Regions from separate parts of the Homo sapiens genome. Here region 2 is linked to region 1. Evidence: fine-mapped expression QTL. A gene starts in region 1. The other region holds a variant in brackets. All regions are shown on one strand. Distances are between the middles of the regions. Region 1 holds the start of PPP3CA-DT (PPP3CA divergent transcript). Region 2 overlaps PPP3CA (protein phosphatase 3 catalytic subunit alpha).

What was found.
Region 2: its variant is fine-mapped to the expression of PPP3CA-DT in whole blood (INTERVAL, PIP above 0.99).

The regions. Positions count from the first base shown.
Region 1 is chr4:101,346,565-101,349,064 of GRCh38, forward strand. PPP3CA-DT (PPP3CA divergent transcript) reads left to right here and starts at 1,213. Exons shown (of 2, transcript NR_033874.1): 1 at 1,213-1,445; 2 at 1,760-2,319. It overlaps PPP3CA (protein phosphatase 3 catalytic subunit alpha), which reads right to left and starts at 962. Exons shown (of 14, transcript NM_000944.5): 1 at 175-962. The coding sequence starts at 232. RefSeq lists silencers at 1-117, 588-1,197.
Region 2 is chr4:101,308,579-101,311,602 of GRCh38, forward strand. All of the region lies in intron 1 of PPP3CA (protein phosphatase 3 catalytic subunit alpha), which reads right to left. Among named protein-coding and RNA genes, the nearest start is that of MIR1255A, 20 kb to the right of the region's middle. The variant T/A (reference allele first, on the strand shown) is at 1,728.

The DNA.
Region 1 (2,500 bases):
GCGGGGGCGGGGGGTTCGCGGGGTTCGCGGGTTGCACAATATCCTAGAAGGTCCGCGGCTGGAGCGGACAGAGGAGAACCTGGGGCGGGGGAGGGGAGGAAAGGCGAGGCGAGGCAAGCTGCCCTGGCGCCTGCGGCACACGGTGCACCCAGGCCACCGCGGCGCTCCGCTTACCTTTCACCACCCTGTCGGTCGTCGACAACTTGGGATCAATTGCCTTGGGCTCGGACATCTCCAGCTGCCGGAGGACAGCGACGCGCTGCTCGTCCGTCCGACTGCACACCCCGACCGGACCGGCGGGCCAGACACTCAACGCCGCCGCCGCCGCCGCCGCCGCCGCGCTGCAAACCGCTCGGCTGGAGGTCTAGGCTCTGAGCTGGCTTTAAAGTTGCTGCCTTTTCCGCGCGTCCCTCCTCCGCCGCCGCCGCCTTCACTCCTCCTCCGCCGCTGCCGCCAGCCCCGCCGACTCGCTCCGGGCTGCGCGTGTGTGGTGGTTATTTATTTATTTTCTGAGCACGCCTCCCGGTTCTTCTTTTATTCTTGGGGGAAGGGGGATGGGGAGGAGAAGCGCACACACGAGCACCCACCCCGGCACGGAGACCCAGCACCGCGGAATGGAGCCCCACGCGCGCACACACGGCCAGGATTAAGACCGATCACATGGGGAAGGCCGGGGGCGAGGGAGGAGAGGCAGGGCCGCCGATGTCAGTGCCACCAGCCGCACCTTGGCGTCCCCGGCGGCGGAGAGGCGGCCGCCGCTGCTGCCGCTGCTGCTGCCGCTGCCGCTGTTGCTGCTGCCGCTGCCCCTGCTTCTCCACACAGAGCGCCGCCGCTGGTGCCGCGGCCGCCGGAGACGTCCCGCCGCCGCGATCGCCCGCGCTCGCCTCTGCCTCCCCGCGCCGCTCCTCCACTCACCAAGGCACAGCCGCCGAGCTCGGCAGACACAGTCCCGGGCACAACCTACCCCCCTCCGCCGCCGCCGCCGCCGCCAACACCGCGCCCGCCTCCGCCTCCTCCCCTTCCTCCTCCCGGCCCCCGCCTCTTGCGCGCCTGCAGCCTCCTCCTCCCCACTGAGCCCGCCCCCGACCTCCCGCCCCGACGCCGGAGTTCCTCGCGTTCATTGGCTAGAGGGCGCATCACTCAGTGCCAGGTGGCGGCCTCCCCGCTTGTCCCGCCTCCCGCTCCTCCTCATTGTCCCCGCCCCTTGCTCTGTTTTCTTCCAGCTGCCGGACCAGCGGGCCTGCCGCCTCTACGGACCAGTCCCTGCTCAGGTGTCACTTTTGCTGGCAGGCCGAGATTAGGGCAGGAGAGTGGGCAAGGCGTCGCGGCCAGGAGGAGAAGGGCTCTACCACGCCACCCTCCTTTGGCCTCCGAACGCGGACCCCGCACACACACACCCGCGCCTCTTTGGCAAGCGTGCCTTGTCGGCTGGGTTAAGCCGCAGTGTGAGTAGCCAAGTGCAGAGGGTGTCTCCGGGTGTGTGCGTGGCCCACAAGAGGGCAAGAAGAGAGAAGGCGGGGATAGGAGGGAAGAGGGTGGGGGTGAGAGGCAGCCCTGAGAGGGCGGAGGAAGGAAGAGGCTGGGAGCTCGGCGCCCGCGGCGCAGCTGCCGTCGCTGCCGCAGCTGTCCAGGGAGGATCGCCAAAACGGCGACGAATAAACAACTTACCTTGCGGAGAAGAGCTACGACTGCGATGCGGTGTACGGTTGTTTTTGCTTTTGCGTTGGCGGCTTAGGGGCTGTTACTGTGTCCCACCCAGGCGTGCACACCGAGCGGCGGGGCGCTGTGGAACGCGGGAGCGGACTAGCGGAGGAGGATGCGGACCAAGCCCCAGCGACCCAGGGCAACTCGGAGCTACCTCGGGCAGCCCTGCGGGTCTCCGAGGAGAACCGAGGAGACGGGAGAAACATGGGAGAGGGTGGCCTTTTCCCTGTTCACACACACATGCACGCAGCCACTGGCCGGGACAGTTGACACCCATCTTCCTTCCCTGCTCCTTCCAGTCATTCTACACCCGCTTGGTGCTGCCAGTGCGGGCAGGGCCTTGGAGCCCAAAGCGGATCCCCACACTTGTCCCTACGGTCGGAAGGAAAGTAGAGGAGAGAAAGTCAGGCGCGGCAGGGCTAAGAGCAATAGTGGCCCAAATGTTCCTGGCCCGCCTGCTGCGCCACAGAGTCTGAAAAGCGGGTCTCCGTCTACCAGAAGGTGACCTCCACACAGCCCCTCTCCCCGACCAACTGCAGCACCCAAGGACTGGCAACGTGGTTGGAGCTTTTGGGGGGAATTATGAAGAAATCTGAATAAATTTCTCACCCTTCATGTTTCCTGTTTTATTTCCAAAGTCCTTCAGTATCAGGTTTTTCCTATTTCCTCAATTGGACCACGGGTCCAATAAAAGGTTTAAAATACACACACACACACACACACACACACACACACACAAAGAAAACAAAAACAAAAAAAAAAGTTTAGGGAGCTGGGAGATGAAGCCAAAAGAAAT
Region 2 (3,024 bases), 38 kb before region 1:
GGGATTACAGGCACCCACCACCATACCCAGCTAACTTTTTAACTTTTTGCAGAGACAGGGTCTTGCTATGTTTCTAACTCCTGGCCTCAAGAGGTCCTCTCACTCTCAAAGCACTGGGAGTGCAGGTGTGAACCACCACACCTGGCCCATAATTATTTTTAATAAAGTGTTAGCCAAAATTCATTTATTTTGTAGTCACAAAAAATTTCATAATTCAAGTAAAACATACTTTCTGCAATGTGAAATTTTATATACATAAGATTAAACATTTTTCCATTAGCAAGAGGAAGATACTTCCCAGAAAAAGGAATCCAGAGTTTTCTACAAAGACCTCCTGGTCGGGCATTGTGGCGCATGGGCAACACAGGGAAACTCCGTCTCTACAAAAAAATACAAAACTTAGCCTGGCATGGTGGTGTGCGTCTGTGGTCTTAGCTACTTGCGAGGCTGAGGCAGAAGAATCACTTAAGCCTAGGCTATTGAGGCTACAGTGAGCCATGATTGCACCACTGCACTCCAACCAGGGTGAAGGAGCAGACCCTGTCTCAAAAACAATAATAATAATCATAATAATAATAAACCTTCCCAACCCCAGCCCCACCTTCCTCTGTCATCCCTTTTCTGTACTTTGATAGCAAGGCCTTTGTCATCTATGGAACAGAAAGGAAACAAAACGATACTACACATCAGGTATTATCTTGGTACTTCCTGTTGCTTCCAGTTACAAGGGGCTTTATTCCTGGGGATATTATAAAATGACAAAGCTTTCTACTTGATAATAATCCATAAATAAGAGACTATAAGAAACATAATCTTTCAGAAGAGGTGGCAGCCAGGCTTCTAAAGCAGTTATGTTGTGATGTAGGTTTCATATAAACACTTGAAACTAAAAAGCAAAGCGGGTGGGGGGTGGTAGAGGGTGGGGAGGTGGCACTGCACAGTTCCATAAACTCATCTTGTTCTAGGACTCAGGGAAAACATTCTTAAACATGGACAATTGGAACACTATAAAGAAAGATGTGCTGTTCTGCCTGAAAATAAAGCAGCTAAACAGAAAAATATATATCTGCCATGTAGGGCCCTGTGAAAATTCCAATTATACGTTTTTTTAAAAAAGATATCCACATGTTGTGTTGGTTGATTCTTGTTGCAGTCTCCCTAAGAATGGTCAAGCAGTCAGAATTAACCAAGAGAGACACTGTTCTCTAACGTGTGATACAATGGAATGTTTCTATAGGATATTCTTATACAACTTAATAACAAAAAATATTGTAGAAAAATAGTGTGCTACACATTCCCCTATTTTAAAAAGAAAGTACGTATTTATCAACGACACGTTATGATTGATTCAACATTTTAATTCTGTATTCCGTGTCCTAGAAAGCTTGAGACAGTATTTCAAATGAAAAGATCAGTGTGTAAATAAAGAGAAAACCCAATCAATTATCATGGTATCTAAAATCTACTTTCGTTTAACTAAAATATACCAGTTGTACTCTCTTCAGCTGTAGTACTACTGATTGTTGTGTTTGTTAGTAAAAAGAAAAGCTTCCCATAATTAACTTCCTGTTTTTCTACCTTTCACTGCCAAGGTTTTTAAAATGAATTTCTCATAATTAACACAATGCTATAAAACTAAGGCTTAAATCGAAATACCACGAATTCTCAGTAACCAATAATAATGATGGTTATGTTCTATCTTAATATTGATCAACTTGACTCACAGA[T/A]ATTATTAATGTAATCACACAAGACCTCAAGGGTTTTCAAAAAGAGTGATACTTGTATCTTGCAAAGAACAGAAATAGTAAATTATATAAACTACATTTTAAAAGAAAAAAGGCCTATAATCTCATCACTTTGGGAGGCCCAAGTGGAAGGATCACTTGAGGACAGAAGTTCAAGACCAGTCTGGGAAACATAGTGAGACCCATCTCTACAAAAATAAAAAATCTCCCAGGAGTGGTGTCACCCATAGTTCTAGCTACTCAAGAGGCTGAGGTGGGAGGATCACTTCAGCCCAGGAGTTAGTGAATACAATGAGCCATGATCACGCCACTGCACTCCAGCCTAAGTGACAGAGAGAAACACTCTGAAGAAATAACAACAGAATTAAGTAAAATTAAAAATTTGTTTAATTTTGAAAAGTGAAACTACTGAAATCCAAAAAATTTCTTGAGAATAAAATACACAACAAAATTCAATACAATGAAAGCACAAACATTTTTGAGCAAAGGATCTTATTCAAATTAAATAAAAACTATAAATGTACTTGGCAATTCACCTAAATGAATGTACTTAAAATGAAAGCAGCAAACAACTTCAAAGTCATCATCCTAAAGAGTACAAAATGTAATTAATATTGAATGGAATGGTGAAAAATATTAACACATTTTTGAAGCAAAAAATAAATAAGCTTTATGGAAGGAGACTAACTTAAAAATCAAAAATTAGACAATTCTAACTTACGTTAATAATTCACAGAAAAGAAATAGTGAAGAATCCTTCACTTCAGGGTTTCTTATTAGCTTGCAAATCCAAGTATAACTTAAACTCCAAGAGATCAATTTATGTTTTTTAAAAGTTATGTAAACACAATGCCACTTATTTAATTTTCCTCTTCTCTTACACTCCTATCATTTTTCTCTTCTCTGTTTTAGGAGGAAGAGAATTAAAATTTGTTTGGTGCCTAGTATGTGACAAGGCACTGTGCTTTATTCTTTACATTATCTCATTTAATCTTTACAACCAGCCCTATCAGCTTGATAGTATTATCCCTATTTATCTAAGGAGATATTTAAAAATCATGAAAACTGAATAAGTTACCTGAAGTCTGTAGCTATTTGTTAGGTGTTCTGGCCCCTAAGCCATGCTGCCTCTCTATATTGTAAGGCAATACTAAACATTAAGATACCACCTCTTGGCCAGGCACAGTGGCTTATGCTTGTGATTCCAACACTTTGGGAGGCCAAAGTGGGCAGATCACTTGAGGTCAGGAGTTCAAGACCAGCCTGGCCAACACGGCGA